Linked DNA regions of Homo sapiens. The protein of the gene in region 6 purifies or fractionates together with the protein of the main gene of each other region. This does not show direct contact. Each region holds a gene or a part of one and is shown on either strand. Other genes may lie near its edges. The genes, in order: TRIM29, MACROH2A1, SERPINB5, PLCD1, EVPL, RBM24 and SERPINB2.

What was found.
Region 1: the proteins of RBM24 (region 6) and TRIM29 purify together in Homo sapiens (affinity purification with mass spectrometry; 3 studies listed by BioGRID and IntAct, with this or other methods). This does not show direct contact.
Region 2: the proteins of RBM24 (region 6) and MACROH2A1 purify together in Homo sapiens (affinity purification with mass spectrometry; 2 studies listed by BioGRID and IntAct, with this or other methods). This does not show direct contact.
Region 3: the proteins of RBM24 (region 6) and SERPINB5 purify together in Homo sapiens (affinity purification with mass spectrometry; 3 studies listed by BioGRID and IntAct, with this or other methods). This does not show direct contact.
Region 4: the proteins of RBM24 (region 6) and PLCD1 purify together in Homo sapiens (affinity purification with mass spectrometry; 3 studies listed by BioGRID and IntAct, with this or other methods). This does not show direct contact.
Region 5: the proteins of RBM24 (region 6) and EVPL purify together in Homo sapiens (affinity purification with mass spectrometry; 3 studies listed by BioGRID and IntAct, with this or other methods). This does not show direct contact.
Region 7: the proteins of RBM24 (region 6) and SERPINB2 purify together in Homo sapiens (affinity purification with mass spectrometry; 3 studies listed by BioGRID and IntAct, with this or other methods). This does not show direct contact.

The regions. Positions count from the first base shown.
Region 1 is NC_000011.10:120,124,614-120,128,113, forward strand, and holds part of TRIM29 (tripartite motif-containing protein 29), read right to left. Parts: intron 2,957-3,500; coding exon 2,723-2,956; intron 1,277-2,722; coding exon 1,078-1,276; intron 1-1,077.
Region 2 is NC_000005.10:135,389,232-135,392,731, forward strand, and holds part of MACROH2A1 (core histone macro-H2A.1), read right to left. Parts: intron 1-3,500. UniProt on the Homo sapiens protein: Variant histone H2A which replaces conventional H2A in a subset of nucleosomes where it represses transcription. Nucleosomes wrap and compact DNA into chromatin, limiting DNA accessibility to the cellular machineries which require DNA as a template.
Region 3 is NC_000018.10:63,483,458-63,486,957, forward strand, and holds part of SERPINB5 (serpin B5), read left to right. Parts: intron 1-964; 5' UTR 965-971; coding exon 972-1,139; intron 1,140-3,488; coding exon 3,489-3,500. UniProt on the Homo sapiens protein: Tumor suppressor. It blocks the growth, invasion, and metastatic properties of mammary tumors.
Region 4 is NC_000003.12:38,026,843-38,030,795, reverse strand, and holds the start of PLCD1 (1-phosphatidylinositol 4,5-bisphosphate phosphodiesterase delta-1), read left to right. Parts: upstream 1-1,153; 5' UTR 1,154-1,256; coding exon 1,257-1,290; intron 1,291-3,953. UniProt on the Homo sapiens protein: The production of the second messenger molecules diacylglycerol (DAG) and inositol 1,4,5-trisphosphate (IP3) is mediated by activated phosphatidylinositol-specific phospholipase C enzymes. Essential for trophoblast and placental development.
Region 5 is NC_000017.11:76,020,807-76,024,306, forward strand, and holds part of EVPL (envoplakin), read right to left. Parts: intron 3,315-3,500; coding exon 3,215-3,314; intron 2,849-3,214; coding exon 2,694-2,848; intron 2,613-2,693; coding exon 2,486-2,612; intron 1,733-2,485; coding exon 1,607-1,732; intron 1,422-1,606; coding exon 1,383-1,421; intron 1,223-1,382; coding exon 1,061-1,222; intron 976-1,060; coding exon 868-975; intron 758-867; coding exon 662-757; intron 1-661. UniProt on the Homo sapiens protein: Component of the cornified envelope of keratinocytes. May link the cornified envelope to desmosomes and intermediate filaments.
Region 6 is NC_000006.12:17,291,361-17,294,371, forward strand, and holds the end of RBM24 (RNA-binding protein 24), read left to right. Parts: intron 1-395; coding exon 396-759; coding exon of another isoform or gene 760-772; 3' UTR 773-2,511; downstream 2,512-3,011. UniProt on the Homo sapiens protein: Multifunctional RNA-binding protein involved in the regulation of pre-mRNA splicing, mRNA stability and mRNA translation important for cell fate decision and differentiation. Plays a major role in pre-mRNA alternative splicing regulation.
Region 7 is NC_000018.10:63,890,705-63,894,204, reverse strand, and holds part of SERPINB2 (plasminogen activator inhibitor 2), read right to left. Parts: exon of another isoform or gene 3,305-3,500; intron 2,770-3,304; 5' UTR 2,761-2,769; coding exon 2,593-2,760; intron 1,585-2,592; exon of another isoform or gene 1,486-1,584; intron 1-1,485. UniProt on the Homo sapiens protein: Inhibits urokinase-type plasminogen activator. The monocyte derived PAI-2 is distinct from the endothelial cell-derived PAI-1.

The DNA.
Region 1 (3,500 bases), on a different chromosome or scaffold from region 6:
GTCAGCTGTCACCATCACCATTAGCATCATCACTATTGTCATTAGAAGGAGGATTTCGGGATCTGAGTGCCGTTTGAAGCCAAATGATTGTCTTGCTGAAATGGCTTATCTGTCCTTGTGTGTGATTGAATGTCCCCCACATTTCACAGGGACACCATGTGATATTGCCATCGCCAAGGTGCACAAATGGCCTCCTGAACCCCAACCCTTCTGCACACTTTTATCCCCCTCACCCCCTTCTCCTCCCCCAAAGAATCATATGCTGTGTCTGGAGAGCAATCAGGGGTCCTTTCCTTTGGGGTATTCACGTCTAGCAGTCATTAACAAGGCTGTACTCTCAAGGCCCCGTGCAACGCCTGGGACACCGGGTGGGGCCTTGGGGAAAGTGCCCAGGCTTCAGGCCCTAAAGGGACTGGGTGGAAAAGGACTTGACGATGTTGTTTCTCAGGTTCAGAGGTTTTCTGTGAGATGATTCAGTTGACCTCTGAGGGGACAGCATGACTCAGAAGAAGAGCTGACTTCAAGGGAGCTGGTGAGTCACAGAGACACTGTGTCCCACCGTCCCCAGCCCAGCTCAACAGGCCAAGTCCAGCCTCTGGGCTCAGCACTGCTCAGCATGGCCATGATGACAGGCAAGTCCTCCCTCCAGGCATGGCTGCAGTTCTAGGTCACGTCTGCTAGAGTCTGCAAAGCCACCAGTTTGGAATCTGGCCCATACTAGTGGCAGCATCCACACAGCTGCTGGGCTGGGCCCGGCAATTAGATGTAGATCTGAACGAAACCAGTCTCTGAGTTTGATGGACAACCCACAGAGAGGAGGCATTTGTGGAGCCAGTGCCCAGGATGTCCCTGCTCTGGAGGTCTCTTCCTATAGTTGCATAACTTTGGCAGCAAGTTCAAAGGAGGAGGAGGGTTAGAATCCCTGTATCCTAGTCCAAACGGCCTGAGGAAGGGTGGGTGGGTGGGTGGGAACAATGAGAAGAAGCTCACTGGAGGCCAGCCCATGTCAGGCAGCAGGAATTGATTTGGGAGAGAAAGGTCTATGGCCTTGGGGCCCAGCCACGAGAGGGGACCTACCGTTCTCCATGTGGTTCCTCTCAATGAAGTTACGGCTCAGGTCCGCCTTGCACATCTTCTCAACGTGGCGCATGCATACATTGAGCAGGTCGTCCTTGAAGTTGCCTAGTGACTGTCCCAGGCCCTCCCCCTCCAGCAGGACATGATAGGTGGGCAGGGGTGGGGGGAGAGAGTAATTGCTCATCAATGCACCAAATTCCTACCAAGAAAGGAAAGAACCATTAACTGCCTGGGTCTTCATGAGCTATGAGGACGCTTCTCTGCCAGGGGCTCTCACAGTGCAGCTGGGGGTCTCAGCGCTGCAAGCCCCACTCTTCCTCACTGGATGTTTGTTTCTTCTGTAACATGAAAAGGTTCAACTAAAAGCCACTGGATGCTAACATCCCTGATGGCACTAGCGTTCAGATGTGTGACTCCACGACTCCCACCTCTAAAGTGGGTGCATCTGTTTACCTCATAGGGTTTATGAGAGGGACACAAACTGCAAAGACTGGGAGTGAACACACTAAAGAAATGCAAGGAATTACTATAGAATTTGGGGTCAGCCATGGTGGTATTTCTTTCTTTCTTTTTTTTTTTTTTGAGGCGAGTCTCACTCTGTTACCCAGGCTGAATCTCAGCTCACTGCAACCTCCGTCTTTTGGGTTCAAGCAATTCTCCTGCCTCAGCCTCTCAAGTAGCTGGGATTACAGGTGTGTGACACCATGCCTAGCTAATTTTTTTTTGTATTTTTAGTAGAGATGGGGTTTCATCATGTTGGCCAGGCTGGTCTTGAACTCCTGATCTCAGGTGATCCACCTACCTTGGCCTCCCAAAGTGCTGGGATTACAGGCGTGAGCCACCATGCCCAGCCCACAGTGGTATTTCAACTTTTACACGCCATGCTCAGTGCTGCCTTTGCACTTCTCATTTCCCTTACTCCTCACCGAAGACTCTGTCCTCCCTCTCAAATCCTAACCGGCCTCCAAGACCCAGTTCAAACTCCACCTCCTCCACAAAGCTGTCTTAGCTTCCTCCAGCCCACCTGCCCTTCTCTGAGCTTCTACAGGCACTTATCTCCTGAGCCATATGCTTTATCATTTAATTACACACTTTTCTATATTGTTCTTTAATTGTACATGTCTTATCTTCCCAGCTGGATTGCAGTTGCTTGGAGGCAGAAACCATGTCTTGTACTTCTCTATTCGCCACAGCACCTAATAGAGTACTGGGCATGCAGTAGTATCTAAAACACTCTAGCAGATGGAAGGATGAATGGATGAATAGACAAACGGACTAGATCCAAGATAACAAATATGCAGCACTCCTACACCACTCCCCCTCTACCCGATTCACTGATCTCACAACTCTTTCCTACTGAGCCCAGAGCACTGCTAGCACATATCAATTGAAGTTGGTAAAAGGTGATATTTGTTTGCCATCTTGAGAGTAGGTAAAGAAATGGATTGGATTTAAAAAATTAAACAGAGAGAATGGCGCTTGGATAGATGGATGAATGGATGGATGGTTGGATGGCTGGATGGTGGATGAACAGATAGACGAATAGGTGGATAAGTGGATAGGTGGATGGATGGATGTTGGAGGGGGGTCTCAAAAAGTGGATTGTGAAATCGAGGGCTTGAGTGACAGAGGAGTGGCTTGTTACCTGCAGAAACAACACAGAGTCGCTGATGCTATGCAGCTGCTCCCGGGTCTGCTTGTCCTCATGCAGCACCTTGGCTCTCTCATCCAGAGCATCCATGATCACCTTCACTTGGTCCACAGCATCCTGCTCCCGCTGCTCCAGCGCAGCCCTCACTTCCTCCTTTTGCTTCTCCAGGTCCCGCACCAGGTCCCGGAAGTTCTGCTCCAGGATGGCCTTCTCATTGGTGGTGAAGCTCTGGAGGTCCAGAGTCAGGGAAGAGATTAGGCAGGGCTTTAGTTAGGGAAAGAAATCACCCTAGTCGGGTATGTCTTTAGGTTTCCAGCACAGGATCAGGGCATTCCCACTGCCCCAACCTGGCAAGCCTATTTGGCCAAGAATCTCATTCAAAGGCATCACTGAGGGATGCCACCTACTGACAGAGATAGCCAGGTTTGTTCACAGTCCACGCTTCTTATCTACCTGTGGCTCCTTCCTCTTGGTGGGTTGATATGAGCCATCATTCCCTGTGGGCCCCAAAGTTCTCCCATGGGTCACAATATGCTCCCTGAAACCCTAACCAGAACCAAACATTATTCAGAAAATGAATGTATATGTAGAAATGTGTATTCAGAAAATGAATGTGTATGCTGGCTGTGTATGTAGTCAGGGTCAAGCAGGCAGTGATTTCAGATTGTGGTTTGCAATTACCCAAACCATGGCAGACATACATTTAGCCAAAATGGCATAAGTAGAGAAGAAATGGTGTGTATTTGGTGGCTGGGGAGTCTTGTGGGCAGAA
Region 2 (3,500 bases), on a different chromosome or scaffold from region 6:
CCACTGTCTGTAGCTGCAGGGCCCTCCGGGTCCAGGTGATGCACTCCGCTGGAGCAGTTTGATCCCTGAAAAGAAAGGCTTGGCTTTGCACAATTTATACCATGACATCAATTTTACTTAAGTGCCTTGCCATTATGCCACATGATGAAAAAGGAAATGGGATTTCTTGGCCACATTCTATACACTTGTTTAATAATTGCATTTTCATACACTTGAGACTGGGGCTGATAAACTTACCAAAGGCTTCATAAAAGAAAAACAGCTATGACACCCTCCCCTAAAAAGATGATGTAAAGGCAGATACCTAGATTCTCTGATGAAAGCAGTGTCTCTATTTTAGATTCTTTATCTGTGAGAGGCAAGAACAGCTTACAGGAGTCAGTACAGTGTATAGTCAGGTTGCAGTAAGAGGCCCTCTGAGCACTTCTAGTCCACCAGATGGGCCAATCTTTAGAGAAGAGAGAGAGAGGTGTTTTTTCCTTCCTTGCTCCCAATCCCCATCCAGTCACCCAGTCCAGAGGAAAACCCTCCTCTACACCTCTTGTGGGGCTCTTTCTCTCCACCTCCAGTGATGGGATCCTGGTCATCACTATTTTAATCAAGTGGTCACAAATGTCTCCTGAAAAGGTCTCCCTACCAGAGCCCCCTCTCCTCTAATCCACCCTCTACCCCATGGGTGGGGCAATCTGGGTACACACCCACCTGAACATGCCCCGGCCCTGGCCTGAAAGCTTTCTGTGGCTGCCACAATTCTCATGATAGAACCAGGACTCTTGGCCTGCCATGTAATGCCCTAGAAATCTAGGCCTGGCACACATGTCCAGCTTTGCCTTGGGCCACCTGTGGTCTAAACTAGCAAACAGGGAGCCACACAAGGTTCCCCCCAAATACCCTTCCACTTCTTTTCTCCCTGCCTGGGCAGTAGCTGTTCCCTTTGGCTGGGACCTCCATTATCTCTCACACTTGCCTCTGCCTTCTGCCAGCCCTCCCAAATGTTGAGATCTGGCTGTTTCATCCTCAGGGCCCCATGTGCTGCACACCACAGCATTGATGCACGTGTGCCCATTCTCCCATCAGACTGCAGGTGGGTGGAGGGGTGCCCCTAACTGTATTCCTACTGTAGCACCATCCAAGGTCTCGAATGTTTACTTGGAGCATCCTGTTCATTTATGCATTCACTTCAGGTATTATGCTGGGCAGATGTGGTCCCTGTGGAACTGGTGGGGAAAAAGACAATAAATAACCCCCTAGTCATTTAAAAGATAAACGTAATGCATGCTTCAAAGGGCCAGTGCAGGGTGCTGGGAGAGGGGATATGAGGGGCCTTGGCCTGTTCTGGGGCCCCCTAAAGTCTTCCCTATGAACATGTTTGCTCACTGAACCAACTGGGCAGGTCTCCCATGTACTGATAAACTGACGTCACACTCCATGGTGTTTGGGGCCTTCCAGCACCAGCAGTCAATGCTGTGACCACTGGAGGCCACAGGGATAGGAGTCCCTGTTACTCTGATGCTCAACCTATACTAGGGACATTGTCAGGACATGCCACGGTCCACACTTAACACCTCTCTAATCCCAGGTGCATCTCAAATCATCTGGGATGAGCCACAGAGATGGCTGTGAGGACAGAAAACAGAATTCTGGGCACTCTGGGGCTACTGTGTAGACAGGCCCAACAGAGGTAAGATGGCAGAGGCCCTGGCTCTGGAGTGATGTTAGAAGAGTAAAGGCCTCTGTCATGAGCGCCCTGTCAAGGAGCACCCAGTCTTAACTGCTCACTGAGGGCTAGAGAGACCCAGAAGGGTCTGGGTTTTTCCAAAACAATTAGTTGGATCCCTTCCTTGCTGCAATGAACTCCATTTTAAAACATTCCTTGCAAAAAGGTGCCTGTGCTCACTCTGAGCAGGAAATGATATGTGTATATGTATGTGTGCCTGTGTTTTCAGGCAAGGCTGTCATTGGGTTTCCTAGCAGTCTTTTGCTTTACTACAAATGTGTTTCACAGACCAACAACCTGATGCCTTTGGACTGAGCTTTTAAATCGGAATGTCTCCCCCTTTCAGCAGGGGAGGCCTGTGGTCAGTGATGATTAACAGCAGCTCAGCCCTTTTCCTACTAGAGCACAGACTTCAGCTTTGTTTCCCAGCTGACCTGCTGGGCATGTCTGGGGCTGCCTATGTGGGAACTGGACAGTGGTCTCCTCCAGAAAGGATCCGTTAGCACTCAGAGACCTGGCAGGTCCTAGACACGCTGACTCCTTAAAAGTGGTGCTCCTTGTCTTTCCCTCCTCTGACTCTAGCTGAGTCTTTACATCAACATGCCAGTGACTCCCAGGTCTCTATGCCAGTGCAACACCTGGCCGCTGAGCCTCAGAGCTCTGTTCTGACTGCTGATGGCAAGGGCCCACTTACAAGTCCCATGGGTGCCTTGAACTCCTCTGGGTCTCTCAGCCTCATCAGTGGCAATGTCATGCACCAAACTAGCCAAACAGCAGTGAACCTGGCCCAGACTTCTCTGTCCACCCCACAGCACCCAAGCATTAGCCAAGCTCTGCTGAACCGCCTGCAGAACCTCTCAGGCCTCTTCTCATCACCCTCCCTGCGTTGGTTCAGCCTCTTTACTTCTGACCTATTCTCAACCGCACCAGTCTTCATCCATGGACACCAGAAGCAGCTCTGCCTACTCTGATGATTCCCTGTCAGCCTGAGCTTCTGAGCTAGCCACAAACAGCATACTTCAGCTACTTTTGGTGGCACTGCTTCCTGTCACCCCAGCCCTGGCTCACATGCCTCAGGCCACCCCTGACTTCTTGAGCCTGTCACACTGTGTTAAGGATGTCTCTGAACACGCAGTTCTCCTGCCTGGAATGCCCTTTGTCCTCTTGTCAACTTGCTGAACTGACACTCACAGCCTCCCTCTGCCATGGAGGCTTTGTGGACATGACCACAGCCTGGAATTGCTCACTGCTCCATGTTCCCATAGTATATATATCCCAGCACATGCCTCTCCAACTTGACTGAACTGCAAGCCATTCGATGTGAAGCACTGTAGTCAACTCATCCCAAGAAAGGTCTGAAATATCACAGCTCCTCCAGTGCCACCCTGCTGGCAGAAGAACATCTTCACTTCTCATTCTGAGTCAGGCTCCTGTCCAATAAAGCGGCCTCAAGTCTGTCTCCCCACCAATGGGGTTGTCTTGCAGAGATTCTGTACTTTATCCCTCCCCATGTTCTTCCTGCACTTCTAACTATAGTTCCCCAAGCTGCAGCCACAGCTATGAAAGAATTCTGACTAAGCCATGAAGCCTTATGACATCCAGCAATGTGTGGTGGTTTTCAAAACACCCTTTTGAAAACCAACTCATAGTTGTGCAGTCTCCAGATAAACCCATGAATGTGCCAGGTCCATCCTGCTCTTCAGAGGTTTATGCAGGTGTGGGTAGCTCCAGTCAGGCACCCATGACAAGGGGGAGAGTGACTGTGAGGCCAATGGCAATTAAG
Region 3 (3,500 bases), on a different chromosome or scaffold from region 6:
GGTTTTCTAGCACTTCTCACAAAGCACCACAAACCAGGCAGCTTAAAGCAACAGAAGCTTTATTCACCCACAGGCTTGGAGGCCAGTACTTTGAAATGACGATGTCGGCAGGGTCATGCTGTCTCAAAAGGCTCCAGGGGAGAATGTTCCATGACTTTCTCTTGGTTTCTGGTGTTGCCAGCAGTTCTTAGCATTCTTTGGCTTGTGGAAGCATCCCTCCAATCTCTGCCTCCATTGCCATACGGCATGCCCTTCACACAGGTGAAGACATTTGTGTCTTCACATCTTCCCTCTGTGTATGTCTGTTTCTGTGTCTCTCCTCTTATTCCTTTAAGGACACCAGTCATATCGGATTAGGGCTCACCTAACTCCAATGTAACTTCATCTTAACTAATTATATATTAGTTAAGAAATAGGACATACCCTGTTTCCACGTAAGGTCACATTCACAGGTAATGGGGATTAGGACTTAACATATCTTTTTGGGGGACACAATTCAACCCATTACACTTACTAAATATTAAACTGAACAATGCAAAACTGCTGCAATTCGACTGTTTTTGTTTTATAAAAGTTTTAACTTTGTAGTTTAACTGAAATCCTAATGGAAACAATATGTGATAAATAAAACCAACTGATGTTGATTAGTGCTGTCAACTTTTCTGACATATGCTGGAGAAGAGATGTGACCACTGGGCTCCCGACAATGGCCACTGTGGCTGAGCAGGCCCAAGACTGCAGAGTCTAGGCAGAGCTGGACACACAGAGGACCTCACATGCCTTCAGACATTTGCCTGGAAGTTTCTTCACAACTGATCTTACTTTTGAATTTACAGAAAGTTCCTTGTTTCTTCTGAGATCAATTACTTTGTTTAAATAGAATTCTTATAGTGTTGGCAGAATGCAGTTGAGAAGACGTTAAAGATGCTTTAGAAACTAACTGCTCCCTTGTCCTTGCTTCCAGGCCCGCAATGGATGCCCTGCAACTAGCAAATTCGGCTTTTGCCGTTGATCTGTTCAAACAACTATGTGAAAAGGAGCCACTGGGCAATGTCCTCTTCTCTCCAATCTGTCTCTCCACCTCTCTGTCACTTGCTCAAGTGGGTGCTAAAGGTGACACTGCAAATGAAATTGGACAGGTAAGCCCCAAAACCTTGTTTCTACTTTAAGTGGGAATACAGTTATTAGAACCCATAGGCAGTGCCTACGGAAAAAAGGAATGTAGACTTTGTGGCCAGAATTGGTCAAGATTCAGAACTGTGCCATTCCAGGACTCTCTTAATCTTTTTTTTTTTTTTTTTTTTTTGTGAGACAGGGTCCCACTCTGTCACCCATGCTGGAGTGCAGTGGTGCGATGTTGGCTCACTGCAGCCTCCAGGTTCAAGCGATTGTTGTGCCTCAGCCTGCCGAGTAGCTGGGATGACAGGCGCGTGCCACAACGCCAGGCAAATTTTTGTATTTTTAGTAGAGACAGGGTTTCACCATGTGGCCAGGCTGGTCTCGAACTCCTGACTTCAGGTGATCCGCCTGCCTCGGCCTCCCAAAATGCTGGGATTACAGGCATCTTAATTTATTTTTAAATGTGAAAGCTCGCTTGTAGGTAATGCAACTCACATCTGGGACAGGCACCAGGCTGTGATGGAGAACCTGGAGATCTGCTGGGTAATCACAGCTTTTTCATTCTGACTTATAATATTTTCAATTTACAATGGTTTTATTGAGATGTAACCTCATCATAAATCAAGCAGCATCTGTATCGTTTTAGGGTTTCTTTCTGGCTATGGTTGATTATCTAGCTTTGTAAAGTTCTTAGACCTTCAAATGAGACAATTTTCCTGATTGTTCCGTTTTAAGTCCTCATGTACTTTTACATAATAGGTGAATGTTCTTCTAATTCTATTTCATTATTACTCTTATGCTAATCATTCTAGGTTCAATAGAATTTCTTTTCTATTAGCTCATAAGCATTTAAAAAGGCAACACCTTCTTGTATTCATATGTGTCCAGAAAGTATGGCCCATAAGAGTTATTTAGGTAAGGATGAAGAATTTACACTTGGGACTTGAAGCAGCTTCACTCCTGTGAAGAGGAGATGTATCTTGACATCAAGCCACATCTCTGAACTGCGCAACTCCACTATCCCTACCCAATCTCCCATTCCTCATTTCTCATCTACCATTAGAGAAAGGCCAGCGAAAGAGAACTTCCGGGTAGTGGGTCTGTTCCTCAGTAATTCCTCAAGCTCTTCTCAGTATATGCAACTGGTTCCCCAGCAGTAGTTACCTGGGCTCTTAAATTTTCTGGTCTCCTTCATCCATCTTTAGGCATGAGAGTTATGCACTGTCTGGGACCAGCATTTGACCCTGCAATGCTGAGGCTATGTAATTCATTGGGACAATGTGCCGGTTTGGCAGCGTTCGTTATCTGGGTTGTGGAATCACAGCATGGCCATTATGAGTTATGGAGCGAGGAGGGTGTCATCTTATGCTGACATTACATGTTGTGGTGTTGCAAGGCAGAAAAGATGCTGGACTATTGGTTGGAACAATAAAAAAAAAAAAGGAAAAAAATACAATGATTTAAGCCCTCCAAATGATAGTATCCTGGTTTTAAATGGCTTACAATATTATTACAAGAATAATTAACAGTTTGAATCCATATAATATTTTACGTGTTTTACATATAAGTAATCCTCATTAACAACTCAGGAAAGCAGGTATTTTCAGCCCATTTTACGGAGAGGAAAGGAGGCTCTGAAGAGTTGGAGAAGATTCTCTGAAGAGTTGGAGAAGAGGTGGTGAAGGCTGGGATTCACAGGCAGGGCCATCTGACTCTAGCCAGCCCAGGGCAGCCCACCATTTATTGTAGCTGCCCATCAGAAATGACACATCTATTTACCTGGCATTTGCTAAAGCACCCAGAGGGACTAGACAGACTCTGGCTAGAGGCACTTGTCCTGAAATCTGATTCCTGCCTGATGATGGTGTCTCTTGTATCAATCTCTCTCTCTGGTCTTTGAATTGGATAGAAATTATAACCCAGCTTCATCGTTCTCCAAGTTTGGAAATCCTTCTGTGTGAGTATTAAGGGCATCACTTTGAAGAAAGGACAAATGTTCTCGATGGTTGATTTGGAAGAGTACCTTTATGGTAGTGTTTCTCAGTGGGGACAATTTGTCCTCCCCTTCCCACTCTGGGATAATCTGGCAATGTCTGGAGACATTCTGGGTTCTCACAAATAGGAGGAGGATGCCACTGGCATCTAGTAGGTCAGCGATGCTGCTAAGCATCCTGCAGTGCCCAGGACAGCCCCACAAAGACTCATCCAGCCTGAATGTCAATAGTGCTGAGGTTGAGGAGCCTTACTTTACGGGAACTAGGCAGGAGGAGTCTGTATGCCCAAGGACGTTGGTCATTATCACGTGTCCACTTCAGTACAGCACTACTCAGAGGCAATGCTTTTTGGGTAACGGATTTTTCTCTTAACAGGTTCTTCATTTT
Region 4 (3,953 bases), on a different chromosome or scaffold from region 6:
GTGAAGCCCCGTCTGTGGAGAGGGGGCATGCAGAGCAGGGGGCTCTCCAAAGCCCAGAAGTCCTGATCCACTTTTAACCCCCAGAACCAGAAGACTGTCCTTCAGCTGTTTCACATCCCTTATTCAAGGCCACCTAGGGCCCAGAAGAGGAGGGATTGGGGTGAGCCCAGCCCCCTCCCCGCAGAGCTGGTCCAACTAGCTTTGCCTGACTCTCACATTGGCCTTATCAGCCCAGGAGGCCTGGGTGGCTTCCTGGGAGGCCCTCTGGGGGCTCTCTGACACCAAGAGCCCAGTTTTCCCAAGGGACTCTCCAAAGGGGTGGTGGGCAACAGGATCTAGGGACCCTCCCAGGGTCTGTGGTGGGAGGGGTCTCTGGGCAACCTATAAAGGGGGTTTTCTGGGTCCCAAGAGTTAGGGGGTGGGTCTGCATAGGGACCTTGCCCAGACAGCCCCTTGGGAGGCCACCTGAAGAAGGGACCCTGGGGATCCTCCCCCTCGGCTGCATGGATCGCTGGGGTTTTGGGATATGAGTGGCTCAAAAGTGAAATCCGTGCACCTGCTTGCTTCCCCCTCCCACACCCCCAACACTCCACCAAAGGCACTCTTGGGGTTAGAAACCTCCCAGCGAGAGGGAAGGGGACCCTCCTCCCGACAAGGTCCAGGTATTGCTCTCTGAAGACCTTCTAATCGTGTCCGTGCACCCATTTCGCAGAAGGGAATGCGAACGCTGGGAGCTGCGGCTGGAAGCCTGGACGCCGCGTCTCCCTAGCGCAGCAGCCCGGCTGGGCGTCGGACCTTACACGATCCCTTCCCCGGGATGACGCCGGATTCTTTCCAGCATCACCCCGACCCCAGCGAGGCGCCCACAACAGGGCGTGGGGCCCGGCCGCCCGCGGTAATGACAGGGCCCGCGGCCCGTGGGTGGCGGCGGCGGAGGAAGCTGGAGGAATCTGGCTATTTCTGGTCGGGGCGCGCCCGCTGGCCCGGGCCAGGGTTGGCCAGTCCTCCGGGCCCCCAGCTCTGCCCTCCCTCTCGCGTCCCCAGAAGGGGGCGGGGAGAGACGAGGGTTGGCGGGCTCAGGGGGCGGGGGCGCAGGGCAGCGGGGGCGGGGCGGTGTCCCGGGACCACCCCCGGCCTCCTCCCACCGCGGTCCATTCAGGTCCCTGCACCGCACTCCGCTCGGACCCCAGGCCGCCGGTGCTGTCGCTACTCAAGTGAGTCCCGCGGTGCCCCTCCCGCCGCGCCGCCCGTCGGGCATGGACTCGGGCCGGGACTTCCTGACCCTGCACGGTGAGTGCCTGGCCCGCGCGAGCGGGAGACCCTGCAGGGGTGGACCCCTGGAAAGCTGTTCCGGGCCCTGGACAGGGAGCCCCCAGCTCCTTCGGCCGCCTCCACACCACCCCGGGCCCGCCTCTCTGCCCCTTCTCCGGACTGGGAAAATCTCAGCCCGCGGCTCCCTGGGTGGGACTGCCGGGCACGACCCTGGGCGTTTCCAGGCTTGTCCGAGATCTAGCCCGGGGGGTGGGTGGGCGGGCGGTACGGGTCTAAAGACTTCCCTCCGCCTCGCGGACCCCCTTGTCCTGGTCATGAAAGTCTGGGCTCCACGATCCCGCTCGCACGGAGGGGCGGCGAAGGAAGGAAACAGCATCCAAGAACGACCAAAATTCTCCTTGCCCCATCCGGGCCGCCCCAGAGGCTCCCCAAAGCCTGGGCGTGCCTGGACCGCGTCAGGCCGCGCGGGTGTGGCGGAGCAGGGGCTAAGCGGGTGGGGAGAGGAGGTGTGCAAGGTTAACCGTGGTCGGGCCGTGCAGCCTTAACTGCCCAGCGCAGAATAGTCAGCGATGCTCAGGCTGAAAGAAGCAGCACGATCCCCTCATCTGCGACCCTCCTCGGGGGACAGGGCCAGGTCTCAGCCGGAGCTGCCTGCTCCATCCTTTGTCCAGCGGAGCTTTGTTTCCTCCAATATGAGCCAGCTCTTTGCCCTTTCGCTGTCCCTCCAGCAGCGAGGGGAGCCTGGGCTCCCGAAGGCAGATCTGGAGGCCTTCTGGGAGGCGGGAGGTTGGGGAGGGTAACTTTGGGCGCCTCTTTGCTCCAGGACAGGCACTCACTCACTCTTGGTGGGGGCTTGCCCTCCTGCCCTCCCAGGTCACTTGCCATCTCAGCAAACCCTGCTCCTTTCATACCAATCACTGCTTTACTGTATATCCCTCTCTTTTTTAGTACCCTTGGGGTTGGAGGCTTTAGTGGCCACCACCCATCCATCTAAACTGTTCATGGACATAATAGATGGGAAAGAGAAGGGCAGAGTCCTCTAGCCTTCCACTAGAGTCCCCCTGGAATTTAGAGGGACTTAGAGATGTTCCCATCAGCCAGCCTCCAGTCTATCTCGTGTTCTGCAGTTGGCACAGACCTGGTCCTCCTGGCCCAGAGAGACCTTGCTCTGTGCCCAGAGCTGTTGCTTTTACACCAATAGCCTAGGCTCCTTAAAGCCACCTTGTCTAGATGAGTCATGGAGTCCCTGCCCCTTCCAGTGCTCCCTCTTCTTTCTTCAGGCCAGAGGTGTCTTTCGTGCGCCTGCCAGACTAGCAAGAAGGGAGGCTGGGCAGCTGAGAGGACACAGTGGACATCTCTGCTTTCTCTCTGACACAGCGTCATTCCTTGGCTCCTGTTGGAACAGGCTTCATCCTCAGTGTCTGTGCCTTTGTCCAGTTTCTCTCCTGAGGCAGCCTTGATATCTTTTCCATGGAGGAAGACACATGGAGGCTCAGTCAGGACCTCCCAGTCCTGTGGCATAGGCTTGGCTGCCCTGGCCCACCCCATTTGAGACCAGCCTCCCAAATGCCTAACTCAGTCCAGCCTTTCCTGAAGGGTTGACATGAACACTGTGACCCCAAGCTGTTTTCCCTGAAGGCCCTGCCACTTCTAGCTCATCACCCAAAATTACCTCAACTGCCTTCTGTCCACACTGCAAACCAGATGGGGAAATAAGAACCTGTCAAGGAGAATTGTTGGTGGGAGGGGGTGATCACTGTGCCCTGTGCTGTTCCAGGTTGTCTACACTTGCATTGGAGAGTCTGCATCCGTTTCACAGTGTGGGTGCCCCAGCACTGGATGTGCTGCAGGACCACACTCTCTGGCCTAGGGCTCCACACTCTCTGGAAGGAGCCCAGAGGGACTCCTTCTGTTGGCCTGGGGAGCTATGCGGCTCACCTAGATGTGACATGTCCCTTCTGTCCTCACCCCAGATGCATGCAGAAGTAATGTAGTTTACTGGCATAGATTCTGAAAGCAAAGTACCTGAGTTCAAGTCTTGGCTTTCTCATCTCAGATGAATCCCTTGACTTCCCTGTGTGTCAGTTTCCTCATCTGTAAAATGGGGGATAATACCATCTACCTCATAGGGTTGCTACGAAGATTGAATGAGATAATATCTACACAGCAGTTAGAACAGTGCCTGGTACCCAGTGAGTACTATGTTCCTGCAGGAGGCCCCCTCCCCAAATTTCTATGCCCTATGAGTTGCCATCTGTAGTTCTTTGGGAGATGATGGGGGCATCATAAGGTAGTTCCTAGTCATGGAAAATAGGGCCAGAACTAGATTCAAGAGCGAGCCAGCCAGCTCTTTCTAGTGCCTCTGAAGCCCTCAGACTGATGCGACAGCATCCATCCTCCTTCCTTCACCTTACTTCTTCCACTCTTTATTCTGGCTATGCCTGGACTGGCTTCTCTAGCAGGTCCCCCGATGTGCCCCAAAGGACATTACCTCCCAGGGCCCTCCCCTCACTGAACACCCCCCACATACACACTAACTTTTCCTACACCCAATCCCTTTTGCCCCCACCCCTGCAAGAGGTGCCGTTTGTAAAAACAGAAAATAGAGGGGCCTCATCTTGGCCCCAGTAGACCTGGGCTCCAGTCCTAGCTTTGGTTCTACTTACTGTGGGTCTGAGAAT
Region 5 (3,500 bases), on a different chromosome or scaffold from region 6:
TCGGCTTCCCAAAGTGCTGGAATTACAGATGTGAGCCACCACACCTGGCCCCCACGAAATTTTAATACCACAGATATGCTGTATACAGCTTAGGTGCTGTATGTGGATCTGGACTTCATGCATAAAAAGAGTTAAGATATTTTTCTGCCAGTAAGAACCAATTTTCACCCCCCTGGGAACCGCTTCACCCTGTTGAGAATGTGCCCATGCCTTTCTTTCCCTCTGGGACCGAGTGGCAACCACACAGCTCTATTTTATTTTATTTTTGAGGTGGAGTCTCTCTCTGTCACCCAGGCTGGAGTGCAGTGGACCAATCTCGGCCCACTGCAACCTCCGCCTCCTGGGTTCAAGCGATTCTCCTGCCTCAGCCTCCTGAGTAGCTCGGATTACAGGCGCGTGCCACCACATCTGGCTAATTTTGGTATTTTTAGTAGAGACAGGGTTTCACCATGTTGGCCAGGCTGATCTCGAACTCCTGACCTCAAGTGATCCACCAGCCTCGGCCTCCCAAAGTGCTGGGATTACAGGTGTGAGCCACCGCGCCCTGCCAGCTCTGTCTAGTTGGGAGGTGCAGTGCCTCTCCTGTGGGCAGGGGTGCTGTGCTCCCGCCCCTGCCGCCCCTGCCGCCCCTGCCGCCCCTGCCGCCTGCCCGAGGGCTCACCCGGCGGTAGTCCTCCACGTGCTGCAGCTGGGTCTCCTGGCAGATACACAGGTTCAGGAAGTTCTGCCACTCCATCTTCAGGGCCTCCTGGTGGGCCTGGGTACGGCAGCATGGAGCCCTCGGACCACGCCCCCCCCACGTCCGCCCCACCTCCCCCCTTCCCCGCCCACCACGTCCCTTCTCACTCTCGCCCTGCCCCAGCGCACCTGGATGGGCCCCACCGCGGGGTGCCGCAGCTCCACCATGCGCTCGCCGTCGTCCTCCAGCTGGTTCACGCTCTGCTCCTGGCTCAGCAGCTCGTGCTGCTTGAAGTGCTGGGGGCGAGTCGGGTGGGGAGCGGCGGTGAGGACCCGGATGGCCCTGGCCGCCCCCACCTGGCCCCGACCTCTGCCAGCCGACCTCGTACTCCCGCCGCACGCCCGCAGGGTCGGCCATGAGGTCGCTCCAGTCCTGCTGCAGGATGCGGCGCTGCTGCTCAGCCAGGGCGCTCAGCTGCCGCGTGCAGCCCTGGAGGTGCGTGTACAGGCTGCCCAGGCTCTGCCCGCGCCACGACGCCGCCTTCTGTGCTCAGGACCCGCCGCCAGCAGCAGGGTGGGGAGACAGAAAGTGGGGGGCAAAAGGCGCCATTGGGCCGCGCTCAGGAACACTGGCCCCGGGCAGGGTCCGGGCGGCCACCCAGGCCCACCCGCAGCCTCCCTGCCCGACCCTCCCTCCTGCTCACCAGTAGGTCTCGGTATTGGCTCCGGATGGTGGCTGCATCCTGCCTCGACCAAGGGGAGAAACAAGCCCGTGAGAGGTGGGGTGCAGGGAGACGGCCCCCTAAGATCTGGGCCAGCCATACCCCACCCACCCCTATCCCCAGGGCCCAGCCGATCTAGCTCCGGCTCTGACTGGAGAAACGGGCTGGGGCTGGCCCCGGATGTGACATCCTCCAGGCTCACCTACCGGCCCCACGAGGCTCCGCAGCTGCTGCCCATAGGCGTCGATCTCCTTCTGCAGGATGTTGTGCTCGGCGATCTGTTGCTCCAGCTCCGCCATGCCCGGCCCGTACTGGCCTGCGCAGACCTGCTTCTGCAGGAGAGCCGGCGGCTCAGTCCCCAAAGGACCGCGGTGGGGAGCCAGAGAACCCCACACGCCTCCCACCCGGAGAAGTGGACTTGGTCATTTGGGCAGAGCGTGGACGAGCCTGGGAGCAGCCCGGGTGCATGCCCTGCAGCTCCCCCAGGGGCGAGGCCATTCTGCAGTGGCCCCTGAGTCCCACTGGTTCCCAGACGCTGGGCTCAGCCTCTAAGAAGTCTCCAGCTCCATCCTGCCTTGTCTGTGACCCAGCCTCAGTGCTTCCTGCCTGGACACCACCAGCCAAGCTCTAGGGCCCTCAGAATGCCCTGCTCCAGCCGGGCCCTTCCCCACTGTCCCTCTATTGTCATGATGACACCCCTTCTGTGTGGCATCAAAGCACAACTCCTCAACCAGGGATCAGAATGTCCCATGACCTGGCTCTGCCCACCTGCCCAGAAATCCCCACTTCCCGTCGAAGCCCAGGCTTCCTCCTGGCAGGAACCTTTGCTCCTTCTTTCTGGAATTGTCCTCTCCTCACTACTTCACCCTGGCCCAACTGAGCCCTCTCACCCCTCTGAGGTCTCTTCATGTACCTCCTCCTGCAGGAAGTCTTCCCTGACTGCACTGTCTACTCTGCTGTCTCTCTGCCCAGACCCCTGAGCCACCCCTACACCCTGACTATTCAAGCCTGCAGTCAGGCCCTGGATTAAATGCAGTTCCGTATCGCCCTCTGATCACACTGGGGTGTGACTTTGAGTTCCTGACCTGTTTCTGCTCCAGCACGCGTGCCCAGTCGACCCTGGGTCCCACGTCGGGGGGCAGCACCATCTTCTCGTACAGGGCACGGTACTCCGCACACTCCTGGGTCACCCGCTCGTGCAGCTGCTTGATGCTGTCAAGAAGGTGGCCGGCAGGTCAGGGCTGGACCTGGGTCTTCCCCAGGGACCCCCAGCCCTGCCGCAGCTCCACTCACTCCTTCTCAATCTCCTCAGCCTGCGGGTGCTTGAGCCGCCGGGCCTTGTCCACGTCCAGGAAGAGGTCCTTGAGCAGCACCTCAGCCTCCTTCAGGCTGCGGCCCGTCTCCTGCTGGTGCTGCAGGGCCTGGCTCTGCTCACTGTTCAGCCGGTCCTGTGGGCAGGAGATGGGCAGACTGGCCAGGGCCCAGAGCCCCCACACCCCTGCTGCCCATCACTGTGGGCCTGAGCCCCAACTTTGGGACCCCAGCTATGCTAGCCAACCTTGAGGCCCACGCCAGGCACAGGGTCAGGACCAGGGCGTCCGTGGGGCAGGTGACAAGGACACAGGGGAGCCCAGAAAAGAAGGAAGCTGAGCCCTCTCTCCCACCGTGTGTTAGGGGATGGGCGGTGCAGGACAAAGGTCATCTGTCCCATCTTCACCATCACCAAGGGGCACTCAGGGAGTGCCAGGCCTGATGATGGGCCTCCCATGCCACCCAGCCTGTCCACGCCCTGCCAACTGCTGCCGGGGCCTCACCTGCTGCAGCCTCTTCTGCGTCTCCAGGATGTCCCGCTCCACCTGGTCGGCGTTGGCTTGCATGCGGGAGATGAGAAGGGCCAGCTCCTGGGTGGCAGCCCTAGTGTGTGGAGGGGACAGCGGGTAGCTCGGTGGAAGAGGCCCCTCTGTGCCCCATCCAGGTGGCATCCCCTGCCCTCCCTCCACCCCATCCTGCCCCCACAGCCTAGCTCACTGCCCTGACTTTGGGGTCTCTCTCTGCAGAAGGCTCTGTGAGCTAGTCCTGGTTGGGGGTGTTAGCACTGCC
Region 6 (3,011 bases):
TACTTAATTAAACATTCTTATTTTATGAACTCATTACAAAATTTTCCAAAGTCTTCATCAATTGAGCACTTGTTAAACCTCTCTTACGTGTGTAGCCCTCATGAATCTTGATTTATTTTCCAAACTCTTGATAAACTGTACTTAGCAGCTCCAAATAATCATACATGACAATTCTAGCAGGGAGGGTGTCATCATATTTTTGGGGTCCAGTTCTTCTGGGGGCACTCTATGACTTTGGCTACTGCCTGAGTATTCTCAATGGACCACTAGAAAGTAGATATTGTGGCAACCCTATGCTCATAATAACCACTAAATTTGAGTTTGTTTTATCTTTGAACAACATGCTACAGTTAGGAGGTGACTACCGCCTGACTTTGTTTTCCATTTCTCAACAGGATACCTGCCCACTATGTCTATCCGCAGGCTTTTGTGCAGCCGGGAGTGGTCATTCCACACGTCCAGCCGACAGCAGCTGCCGCCTCCACCACCCCTTACATTGATTACACTGGAGCTGCATACGCACAATACTCAGCAGCTGCTGCTGCTGCCGCCGCCGCTGCTGCCTATGACCAGTACCCCTATGCAGCCTCTCCAGCTGCTGCAGGATATGTTACTGCTGGGGGCTATGGCTACGCAGTCCAGCAGCCAATCACCGCAGCGGCACCTGGGACAGCTGCCGCCGCCGCTGCAGCAGCTGCTGCCGCTGCAGCATTTGGCCAGTACCAGCCTCAGCAGCTGCAGACAGACCGAATGCAATAGACCAGCCATCTGATCAAAGTTGAATTGTTTTCTCTTTCCCTCCCAATTTTCCAATTTTTAGTAGCTAATAAGAGAGTTAACATTGACTTAACAGCTTTAAAAAAAAAAACAGCCATGCTATTGTGAAGCAGAGTTATTATTTTTTTTATACTCCAGGTAGTGTTCTAGATGAGAAAGAGGTAAGAATGAGGGGAATGGGCACAATTTTGGAAATCAATCCCAAAGAGCCTGAGTAAATGAAAGGCCACTACGAAATGACGCCAGGAGTAACAACGGAACTTCACTTTTGTAACGGGATTTTTATTTTTGCTCTTTTTATAGTATCAGGGAAGCAAACTGCCTTTTACAAGTTAGAAAATGCTGTTTGAATCTAGTTGAACCAGGGAATACAGAGCGAGCAATATGTAGCTTGAATTACATTTAAAAGCAGATTTTTTACAAACAAAATGGCGAAAGCACTGATTGTCATTTTTAGCAGTCACTTAAGGCCTATAGAACTTTTTTCAAGTCGGAAGGTCCTGTTCTTACTATCTCAAAAATGGGCATCGAACAATCAATCTAGGAGCGTGGCAGTGGGTAAAATGGTGGACAGGCACCAAAGCTATTTTCTCATCTGTCCTGTGGATGAGTGGAACTGTGGAACAAGTGATGTGGAATTAATGGGTGCAACAGCTGTACAGACAATCAATAACACACACAGTTCTGGAAAGAACACATCACTTGTGCTTGTTTGATGAGCTTGTCACATTCTAATCCCTCTCCCCATCCTGTTTCAATTTTGGGAAACTTGTATCTGCTGGTGTCAGCAATTCTGATTCTGAAATAGGATCAGGCTTTTACTACAACAGCCTTCTCTTTCTATTTATTGTGTCGACTCGTGGCTTATGAATAAAGGCAGGCAAAGTTTGCAGAACTGTCTTAAGGACATTTATTTTTTTTCCCTTTTTAAGTAATTTTACACTTTAGTATCTATTTCAGAGTCATATTTAAAACTATTTATTAGTGACTACAGTACATGAGACAACAAGGTTACTGAGATTACAATTCTTCAAAGGTTAATGATAATGTGGTTTATACTGTGCCTTAATAGTAATGCTATTTAAGATATTTATTTTTAAGTTTTACTATGCTGCACTCTAAAGAAAGGAACTTTAGATGTGACACTGTAAAATTATGTATTCATCTCATGGCATAAATTATTTAGTAAGTCTAGATGTAGCGTATTAAATATTAACCTATTCAACTAAAGATGTTGACTTGGATTTATTTAAATTCATATGTGCACTGTATAAGAGAGTACTCTTACATTAACACATTTTAGTTTAGTTTTTAGATTTTTTTTTAAACGATATATTGCTAGTTTCATGCTTCCTCCTCTGATTTTGCCTGTGTAGATTTCATTTATTGGTAATTCATTAGTTTAACACTATTATGTAGTTTTTAAATGCTGCTTTACATTTTTCTTCTGAAACTGCAATACTTGCAATTTTTATTCTTAAACTAAATTGAATACTATTTTACACTGTATTGGATTTTTATACTTGAACAATTTCATACAAGGGAAGACAGGTTAGCATTTTTATGGACTTTCTCCATTATCACTGGATTTACTTTAAGTATTCCCATACTAGACAGTGTTATGTAATGTAGACATGACTCTCCTGTGCAAATTATTTATTCGTTGTGTATATTGCTTTATAACATTTCAGATCTTCTAATCTATTCACTTGTATTAAATATAATTTTTAAAAACTTCTGTTGCATTGGCTGTTTCTAATTCTGTAGTAAAGGTCAATGATTTCTCTTTTGAACTTGAATCAATAGCCATGATTGATACGTAACATTTTCAGTGAGCATAATACTCTCTTGGATGTCCTGGTTTTGTGCCTTTAAAGTAAGTTTCACTAACTGAATATCTACCTTATACTTAGCAAATGATATAGGTCATCCCCTGTCCCACCAGGGGAGCCCTAAAGGACTTCGTATCACTGAAAACTGGTTAGCTGAAAGATGGCTTGGAAGGCGTGGGCCAGTAGTAGAGAGGACTAGTCAGAAGTGGGACCAGCCCAGTGGTGCTCGGGTCAGCTAAACTCAGGTTTGAGCTGGACTCCCCACTTTTCAGCAATGTTAGTGAAGCCAATTGCTCTTCGTAATTCACCTTTTTTTTTTTTTTTTTTTTTGAGACAGAGTCTTGCTCTGTCACCCAGTCTGGAGTGCAGTGGCACGACCTCGGCTCACTGCAAGCTCCGCCT
Region 7 (3,500 bases), on a different chromosome or scaffold from region 6:
GACCCTTAAATCAGGGTTCTTTGGGCTAGCACTAAAGCCTTCCTGAATCAGTGTTAAAGTCACTCAGGGAGATGTCCCTGCAAAAGTGGGACTGTGAGCTGCCCCTAGTCCACACAAAGGCCACAGAGAAAATAGTGAGGCAGTTTGGCCTGGATGGGTCTGTTGCCTCACTGTAAGGAAAAGAGCTTATATCCTAATTCCCACAGACCTATGCCATCCAGGAGCTTATATCTTTTATGTATTCTTTTCTTTCACTACAAATGTACCACTTCTAACAGCTACAGCAATTCTCAACTGTGTGGCCTCTTCTTGCCCTGATTCCCTCATCTGTAAAATGAGTACGGTAATCATCGTACCTACCTCATAATATTTTGTCTTATGTGAGTAAATTTATAAGAAGTTCTTAGAAAGATGCCTGGCTAAGGCACTAATAAGTATTGGTTGTTATTATAGCAACTGCTACTAAGTGCCTTACATAGTACCTCTAATCTTCACAACTTTCTTGCATGCTACACATTTTTATTCCCATTTTGTAGATGAGAAAACTGAGATGCAAATGGTTTCAATGTCCTCACACACATGTAGTAAGGAACAAAGCCATGACTCAAACACAGATACGTCTGTCCCCAAAGTCTGTGCTGCTTTCTCCAGCCAATAAATGTCTTTTTCTTTTTATCTGGGAAGCAATCATATTAACATTTGAATTTCAAAATCTACACATGCAACAGAGTTGTCAAAAGACGATATATATAGAGTCTCAAAAAAAAAAAGACTATATAGAATCCTCGCATAGTCCCAAAGGCTTAAAGCACTTCTTAGACACAGAAAAGCTGTCTTGTGTCCAGAGCAATCAGTTTATTTTCCTCTAGTACCAAAATCAAGATTTTTACTTTAACAACCCAGAGCACTTCATTTAGCATTTGCTCCCAAAATATATTGCTACTGATTCCTTTACATTTAAAAAACAAAAAAACCTAGGCCGGGTGCACTGGCTCACGCCTATAATCCCAGCACTTTGGGAGGCCGAGGCAGGTGGATCACAAGGTCAGGAGTTTGAGACCAGCCTGGCCAAAATGGTGAAACCCCATCTCTACTAATACAAAAATTAGATGGGCATCGTGGCAGGCGCCTGTAATCCCAGCTACTCGGGAGGCTGAGGCAGGAGAATGGCTTGAACCTGGGAGTTGGAGGTTGTAGTGAGCCAAGATCGCACCACTGCACTCCAGCCTGGGTGATAGGGCGAGACTCCATCTCAAAAAAAAGAAAGGAAAAAAGAAAAAAACCTAAGACCTGATGTTTCTAAAGCTTTTGTGCCAATTTACTATCTTTATTCTTTCAAGGCAAAAAATAAAAAATAATGGGGAAAGAATATTGCAAAAGACTACTTGTGTCAGGGAGTTGAGCAATTGAGTTTTGTTGTAAGTCTCAATGTTTAAACTGTCACAAACACAGAGATTGATTCACCCATCCCTTGTCTTCCTGCAGCAATATTGGCCAATGCTCTCTCTGTGAAACTTCAAACTTCAAATGAGGCCCACCTTACATGGGTCACCATGTGCATGGAAAGAATGTATTTACACTCAGGTACATTCTCGTGGGAAACTGGAAACCAGCCGGCGGCATCTTGGTGTGACTGCATGCACAATGCATGCGTGTCCTTAAAGCATTTAATGTTAATGTTTGTATGTGTGAATGCAAAGGAATTTTAATGATATCATGGCCACATCGAGGTCACTAACCTTGGAAGTAACATGATCACAAGAATTTTGTATGTGCTGAGTGACTATTACAGTAACGATTGCAGTGTATAATTGAAGTAGTCCGGCATAATTTCAAGGGCCCAGACTCCGTGGAAAGAGTTTCCTGACTGAGTCCACGTCCATTCACCAAGGAAGGCAGGCAGTGGCCTTGCAGAAATCCCTCACAATGATGTTGTGCATCCCATCTACCTTGGTTTTCAGGGCTGGCCATAATAATGCCAGGTCTCATTCTGCTACCGTGACCTCACAGGCATGATCTTCTGCAGCTACAACACTATCCATGCATCCTGTGGGTATAGTGAGCACCACCCTGGTATGTTTTTTTTTTTTTCCCTTTGTGATACTCTCTTAACATTATTAGAAGGAATTCTTCATAGGAATAGGGAACAAACACCACAGTGGCACAGTAATGGGAAGGAGCCCAGGCTAGGAGTTAGGAGACAGTGGGGGCTTCTCTGACACCACCAGGGCTCTCATCTGTAAAATGATATCTGTCTTAAAACTGAATGAGATAATGGGTACAAAACACTAACTTTGAAAAATAAGAATATTATATTATTAAAATATAAGATGTGGTCACTCATAACTGTGTCCAGCCTTGCAGGCTATTCAACTCCCATATGCCTTCAACAGCTACAGTTGAGGGATTCGGGGGCTTGGCTGTCTTATAGATTTGAATCTAAGGAATTTGTGTTGTAAGGATCAGTGCTTCATTACCTGTGATGATTGCTGACCTCCTGAGTTAAAATGTCTTTAGCATAAAACAAGAGCAGTTCTCCAATTCCATTCAGGAACTACTCGGCCCAAATGTGGAGCTTCAGCTCAAACTCACCTTGGCCATCTGGTCTTCGGTGCTGCCCCTGGAGCCCATGTAGACCATGGCCATGGTGGACGAGATGCTCCATGGGGAGAGGAAGAGGTTCTGGGTGGGGCTTGCTTTTGCCAGATGCTTGAATAAATTGAGGGCAAAGAGTGTGTTTGCCACACAAAGATCCTCCATTGTTTCAATCTAGAAGCAAAGAGAGGAAGAAAAAAACAGCTCTGAAACATAAGGTAACATTTTGGGTGAGGTCAGCAACAGTAGGACAGGCTGCATTCTGTGTAGGGACAGATTCCCTGTCTGTTCTTCCTCATGGAACAACATGAGGCAGGTCAGGGACAGCTTCATGGACATACCACCTGTGCAGCCGTAAAAAGCCCCTTGTTTAGCCAAATGCCCTCCTATCGCCATCTTGAAATTCTTGATAATTTTAAACAAAAGGCCCACATTTTCATTGTGCACCAGACGCTGTAAATTACATAGCCAGTCCTGAGATACATGAAGTGTTTTGTATGATGAGCAGCGACACTTTGTGGCATTCCATAGAATAACAATGACAATATATAGGGACAGGAGTAGGAATTGAAGCCAGATAGGCAGACCCTAGGATCATGCTCTCAACTTCTATGCTGCCCCCACAAGCACAACGCACACATCCACACCACACACACTGCCACACAGGAAGATATACACATATTGAAATATATGCCACCTGCATACATACCTTGTTGCATCTGGTAAGACGGTCAATCTTCTTTCTGCTTTCCTGCTTCTAAAGTGACTTTGACTCATTGTTTGAAGGTTTGGAGTTTCACCCAGCCCCTATCCCAGAACCCCTTCCCTATATGCACCACACATACCACAGCCTTACTAAAAAAGACTTCCTATACTGGGGTGTTCATTACTGGGAGGACTAGAAG